2 linked regions of the Homo sapiens genome follow. The protein of the gene in region 1 purifies or fractionates together with the protein of each later gene. This does not show direct contact. Each region holds a gene or a part of one and is shown in the gene's direction. Other genes may lie near its edges.

Region 1 (2,615 bases):
CGTGACTCCGGGCAGCCGTTCCCCTCCAAGGCCGTCCCTGTAGACGGGGAGGGGCTGCTGGGGACTAGGGGCAGAGGCTGTGAGGCCAGGGCTGTTGGAGTCCTCGTGGGGCCTGCAGTTTGAGGAAAGAGGGAACATTAGCTCCCGGCCACCAGCCTTTAGAAACCAAGAGTGGTGCTAAAATAGAAAAGAATTTAACAGAAGAGAGGGAAGGAGGGAAGGAGAGGAGGGGAGAGGGAAGGAGGGAAGGAGAGGAGGGAAGGAGGGAAGGAGAGGAGGGAAGGAGGGAAGGAGAGGAGGGGAGAGGGAAGGGCGGGCTTCAGGTGGAGTAATGAGATTGATAAGGAAGAATTCACAAGTCACGCGCCCTCCAAATGGAGACAGCCGTTGCCCTTACTTGACCTCAGTTATCTGGCTCTCGGGGTGAACGTCCTTCCACAGTCTCCATCTTGGGCTGGCTGCCCGGAGCCCGCATAGTTGTCAGATTGAATTTATCCTGTATCTTAGTTTCCTCCTTTATACTCTGAAATGGGGAGTCCACAGACCATAATAATCCCAGAATCTGAGACCTGGAGAGGACCTTGGAGAGCAGGAAAGCTCTCTCCCAATTTTGAAGCTGAGGAAACTGAGGCTCAGAGAGGGTGAATGACTTGCCCAAGGTCACCCAGCACCTCAGAAGGGATGAGTGCCTTCTGCCGGCACCGAGGCTGCCTCTCCACAGCGCTGTGCCACTGGACTGCGCCCTCCATGCCTTCAGAGCCTCATGCTTCTGTCCTGGGCCCTCCTGGGTTTACCTTTGTGGCCATGAGCACCAGGTGGCCATCCCTGGTAGCAGGCGCCAGCCCCAGGGCCTGGACTTCGAGGACCCAGGCAAAGTGTGTGGGGGGTGCTGCCTGGCCACAGGGCGGCCCTGCTCAGCCCCCGCGGCCCCGGCCCCTGCAGTACATGGAGAAGCTGTCCCGGCTGGCGTACCACCCCCTGAAGATGCAGAGCTGCTATGAGAAGATGGAGTCGCTGCGACTGGACGGGCTGCAGCAGCGATTTGATGTGTCCAGCACGTCCGTGTTCAAGCAGCGAGCCCAGATCCACATGCGGGAGGTAGACCCGAGGCTACGACCCCCACCCCACACCCTGTCCACTGCCTTCCACAGGCCCCCTCGCCCAGGGGGTCCCTTCTGCTCCGTCCCGTCATGCCATAGCCACGCTTGCCTGGCACGCTCTCTCCTCCTCTGCTTGGAACATCTGTGCCTCTGCCCACCTGGCTAATTCTGACTCACTTCCCAGGTCTCAGCTTAGAGACCCCTTCCTCCAGGAAGCTCTCCTTGCGCCCCCAGGCCCCTTCCCATATTTCCTGTTGCCTTGAGGCAGGGACTTGCTCCAGCGTGCAGAGCTGTGAGTGGGCATAGACCGCTTGCCATTCCTCCCTGGCAGGCCTCGGGGTGGGGGGCTGGTTGAGGATGAGGACCCCTCAGCGGCACCCAGGAAGGGGCTGTGGTCACCCTGGGGGCTTCACATGTCCGCGGTATGCCCTGCAGCAAATGGACAATGCCGTGTATACGTTCGAGACCCTCCTGCACCAGGAGCTGGGGAAGGGGCCCACCAAGGAGGAGCTGTGCAAGTCCATCCAGCGGGTCCTGGAGCGGGTGCTGAAGGTGAGCGGCCCCACGCCCTGCCCCGGACCGTCCTAGGCGAGGCCGAGCCCCGAGCCTCATCCCCGGCCACCACCAGGATTGCTGTCCCTGCAAGGAGGCGCCATGGTCCTCTTGTGCGGATGAGGACTCGGAGGCTTGGGTCAGACCACTGGCCTCGTCCTACCCTCAGGGCCAATGGAGCCCACTGACCTGCAGACCCCCGACCCCCTTGTTCCCTGCAGAAATACGACTACGACAGCAGCTCTGTGCGGAAGAGGTTCTTCCGGGAGGCGCTGCTGCAGATCAGCATCCCGTTCCTGCTCAAGAAGCTGGCCCCTACCTGCAAGTCGGTGAGCAGCCCCCACCTGCTCCAGCCGTTTGGGCCCTAAGTTGGGGGATGGAGCCCACAGGCCTCCCTCTACCCTTGGCCCTGACCTCTCATCTCTGCCGCCCCACCCGGGCAGGAGCTGCCCCGGTTCCAGGAGCTGATCTTCGAGGACTTTGCCAGGTTCATCCTGGTGGAAAACACGTACGAGGAGGTGGTGCTGCAGACCGTCATGAAGGACATCCTGCAGGGTGGGTGCCGTCCCGGGGTGGGGACTGTTGCCAGGAGGATGCTGGGGGCGCAGCTGAGAAGTGGTGGCAGCTGAGGGGGTCAGCTAAGGCTCAAAGAAAAGCCCAGACTTGCACCTGGGGTCTGGGTGAAGCCCACTCTTCGCTGTGTGGCCTCCGGAGCAGCCTTAGCCTTGCGTCTCTGTGCTTTAGTTTCTTCTCGCGTCCTTGGCTTTGCTGGGAGGGTCAGAGGAGTGATTAGATGACATGTGGTCAGCAGCCTGGGCCTGGAGATAGCATCACGGCCTTGCTGCTTTCAGCAACGAGGCCTGGAATGAGTCACATCCCAACCACAGACCCCCAAGGCGGGATGAGACGGGTCTTCTTTGAGCAGAGTCCAGCACAGGGGCGGCTGTGGGATCAGTGCTGTGT
Region 2 (4,360 bases), on another chromosome or scaffold:
GTGTTACAGGTGCCCGCCATCACGCCCAGCTACTTTTTTTTTTTTTGGTATTTTTATTAGAGATGGGGTTTCACTTTGTTGGCCAGGCTGGTCTTGCACTCCTGACCTCAGATGATCCGCCTGGCTGGGCCTCTCAAAGTGCTGGGATTACAGGCGTGAGCCACTGCACCTGGCCCAAGGGTTTGTAACTCTTTTGTGTTATCTAGTGACTTTTATTTGGCCCTTTGTGTGTGTGTGTGTGTATGTGTGTATGTGTGTATATGCACCTGTGTGTATTTGAATCCAGCCTTTCAGTGATTGAATACCTTTTAATATGAGATTAACAGTATAAAATGTTCTCAAATTAATGTGTTTATAATCAGCCTCTTGAATGAAAATAAAATATGTCAAGTTTAGACATGGAACCTTCATTGTAAGGTATTGCCAGCACAGCTAAAGGAGCTGAAGTATATTTTCAGATACAAGAATGATATAATAATGCATTTACACGTGCCAGAGGCAAGTGATTTTTCTTAATGATACGGAGTTGGTCATCCTGATTGTGAATACTTGGTAAAGGCTTTTTTCTGCCAAATATGGGAGGAAGAAGCAATCCAATTTTAGGCATCCTCTGAGGAGTGAACAGGAATAGCAGCTGGTGTGCATCTCCTTAAGGATGACGTTATTTATGACAACCAAACCAATTACCAGTGTGTCTCCTAATATATTCCCTTTTAGCAAGTTGTTTATTTTTCAGTATAGCTAATTAGTAGGGAAACTGGGGATGATATTTTGAAAGCCAGGTTGAAAAGCACAGATGTGTACGTTAGTTGTGAGGTTTTTTTGTTGATTAATTTCCAGATAGATTACTTAGATTATTAAGCAAGAACTGTATTTGAAATTTGGTTAAGTTTTTCATTTGGTTATCTTTTGTGACTAGTTCCAAAGAGGTGTTTGAAAGCTCGAGAACATTTTGGTACAGTAAAAACACATCTAACATCTTTGAAGACCAAATTTCCTGCTGAACAGTATTACAGGTTTGTAAGAAAAATAGCATTATTTTATAATGTTAAGTAAAAAAAAGGAGAAAAATTATGTGTACCAAATGATTGCTTACAACTAGGCAAACATCCTGTGTAGAAGTAACAAAAAGAGAAAAAACCGAACTAATAATGGTCATGACAAAAATTGGTGATTTTATTTTTTTCTTCTTTTTACTGTCTAAATCTTAAGGAACATGTATTACTTTTGCAGTGAAAAAGCAATTAAAAAGAAAATGTGGTATGAGGGTCAAAAGTGAGAATATCTTTTTGCTATATTCAAGTTTCTTGTGAAATTGGATGAACTATAGTTAGTGAAATAATGAGATTAGGTGGCAGTATATATATGGAGTCGAGTTTTACTTTGAAGCTTGAATTTCACTGCCAAGTGATGTAATTAGCTAATATTTTATGCCATGTTTTCTTATTAAAATCAACACTGTTGATTTTAAGATACACCATTATTTTATGTACCAGTAGGGAAGGAAAATTTTGCCAGTCATAAATGTGAAACATGGGCCAGGCGTGGTGGCTCACACCTGTAATCCTAGCACTTTGGGAGGCCTAGGTGGGCAGATCACCTGAGGTCAGGAGTTTGAGACAGCCTGGCTAGCATGGCGAAACCCCGTCTCTACTAAAAATACGAAAATTAGCCAGGTGTGGTGGCTTATCCCTGTAACCCCAGCCACTTCAGAGGCTGAGGCAGGAGAATCGCTTGAACCAGGCAGGCGGAGGTTGCAGTGAGCCAAGATTGTGCCATTGCACTCCAGCCTGGGCAACAGAGTGAGACTCCATCTAAAAAAAAAAAACAACTTGTGAAACATGGATTGTGAAATGTCTCCTGGTTTCATAGGTGTTAAACTGGGAAAAACTGCACCTGAATCAAAAGTTTCTACTTATTTTAATTTTCTTACTGAAAAAGATGTTCTTTTAAGACGTATATATCAGCAGTAAATAGGATGAGTATTTTCAGGGGGTGGGTAGTATAACCTTATGAGAATATTCTTTTAAGGGAGAGGTTGACAAACCACTAGTGGCTGCTGCCTCTGGGAGCTAAGAATTGCTTTTGTTTTTTCAAGAGTTGTTAAAAAAAAGAAAATCCCAGATAAGAATATGTAACAGTGAAAGCGTCCCACAAAGCCTAAAATATTTACTACTTGGCCCTTTACAGAAAACATTTGCTGATCCTTGCTGTAAGGCAGGGGTTCCCAACCCCCAGGCCATGGACTGGTACTGGTCTGTGGCCTGTTAGGAACTGGGATGCACAGAAGGAGGTGAGCGGTAGGTGAGCGAGTGAAGCTTCATCTGTATTTACAGCCGCTTCCCATCACTTGCAGTACTGCCTGAGCTCCACCTCCTGTCAGATTGGTGGCAGCATTCGATTCTCATAGTAGTGCGAACCCTATTGTGGACTGTGCATGCGAGGGATCTAGGTTGCATGCTCCTTATGAGAATCTAATACCTGATGATCTGAAGTGGAACAGTTTCATCCTGAAACCATCCGCCCCCCTTCTGTGGAAAAATTGTCTTCCATGAAACCAGTCCCTGGTGTTGAAAAGGTCAGGGACTGCTGTTGTAATAGCTGAAGCACAGAGAGAGGTAGGACAGTAGAACAGGTGGGGTCTTTAGAGACCATCTTCTCTGGAGGTCACACACAGGCTGCCCTCTGGCTGGATTTGGCCTTCAGAAGGGTTTGTGTGACCTGCATTATGTTGAGACCTTTTTTTTGAATGTATTGCCACATTTGAGAATCAGGAGGCATTGCATAAATATCCACAGGTTGTAAAATTTCCTTTTTTCAGGCTTCTAGCTCAGTATTCTATTTTAAGTGCATTTGTTTAGTGATTGCAAATGGTAATTTTGTGAATCAGAATTTTCTTGGTATTCTGCACTCAAATCAAAATGGAGGAATACGTTGAGGATGATACATAACTGCAGTTGTCTTCAATCATCAGTTACAAATTTTTATTTTTTTCAGAGCAGTATCACTGTTCTTACTGATTAAATTTAGAAGGCACAATTGCTCTTGTCATCTGTAATCTTCAGTTTTCTTTTTTCTGTCTTTTTTTTTTTTTTTTTGAGACGGAGTGTCGCTCTGTCGTTCAGGGTGGAGTGCAGTGGTGTGATCTTGCGCACTGCAACCTCTGCCTCCCAGGTTCAAGCAGTTCTCCTGCCTCAGCCTCCCGAGTAGCTGGGACTATGGGCGCCTGCCACCACGCCTGGCTAATTTTTGTATTTTTAGTAGAGAGGGGGTTTTGCCATGTTGGCCAGGCTGGTCTTGAACTCCTTACCTCAGATTGATCAACCTGCCTCTGCTTCTCAAAGTGCTGGGATTACAGGCGTGAGCCATCGCACCCGGCGTAAATTTTCATACTCATCAAAATTAGACCATATTTGTCACTGATTAAACTTAATTGTTATAAATTCGAACTTGTAAAATTAATGCTAAATGTCATATTTCTCTTTATATATTGGGGGTTTGTGTAAGATTTTATTTGAAAAATGATCGCATTTCTAAACCGTTTGAACATGGCTGTATTAAACCCATCTTTCTGAAGGTCCCTAACCTTGGAGGCTAAATGTGCTTATTTTCATGCAGATTTCATGAGCACTGGAGGTTTGTGTTGCAGCGCTTGGTCTTCTTGGCAGCATTTGTTGTGTATTTGGAAACAGAAACACTAGTGACTCGAGAAGCAGTTACAGAAATTCTTGGCAGTAAGTGTCTTTATTAGTGGGATCTGCAGAATCAGGCATGGTTGCTTACTTTTTGGTGGAAAGGGTGGTTGTACTTTGTTTATTAAAACAAACAAGAATTAACTAAAAACCACTTATAGTTGTAGCTTGGTATCTGAGGATGATGCTTCCAGAGCTCTTCCAATACCCAAATCTGAGGATGTTCAAGTCCCTTATATAACTGGTGTAGTATTTGCATATAACCTATACACATTCTCCCACATACTTTAAATCATCTCTAGATTTCTTAAAATATCTAATACAGTATAAGTGCTATGTAAATATTTTTTTTTTTTTGAGACAGAGTCTCTGTCGCCCAGGCTGGAGTGCAGTGGTGCAATCTCCGCTCACTGCAACCTCCACCTCCCAGGTTCAAGTGATTCTCCTGCCTCAGCCTCCCGAGTAGCTGGGATTACAGGTGCCTGCCACTATGCCCAGCTAATTTTTTGTATTTTTTTTTTTTTTCCGAAATGGAGTTTTGCTCTTGTTGCCCAGGCTGTAGTGCAATGACGCAATCTCAGCTCACCACAACCTCCACCTCCTGGGTTCAAGCATTTCTCCTACCTCAGCCTCCTGAGTAGCTGGAATTACAGGCATGCACCACCACA

What was found.
Region 2: the proteins of NIBAN2 (region 1) and TSN fractionate together in Homo sapiens (co-fractionation; one large-scale study listed by BioGRID). This does not show direct contact.

What each region holds. Positions count from the first base shown.
Region 1 is NC_000009.12:127,507,459-127,510,073, reverse strand, and holds part of NIBAN2 (protein Niban 2), read left to right. Parts: intron 1-942; coding exon 943-1,098; intron 1,099-1,535; coding exon 1,536-1,652; intron 1,653-1,873; coding exon 1,874-1,981; intron 1,982-2,095; coding exon 2,096-2,207; intron 2,208-2,615. UniProt on the Homo sapiens protein: May play a role in apoptosis suppression. May promote melanoma cell invasion in vitro.
Region 2 is NC_000002.12:121,757,791-121,762,150, forward strand, and holds part of TSN (translin), read left to right. Parts: intron 1-919; coding exon 920-1,016; intron 1,017-3,618; coding exon 3,619-3,734; intron 3,735-4,360. UniProt on the Homo sapiens protein: DNA-binding protein that specifically recognizes consensus sequences at the breakpoint junctions in chromosomal translocations, mostly involving immunoglobulin (Ig)/T-cell receptor gene segments.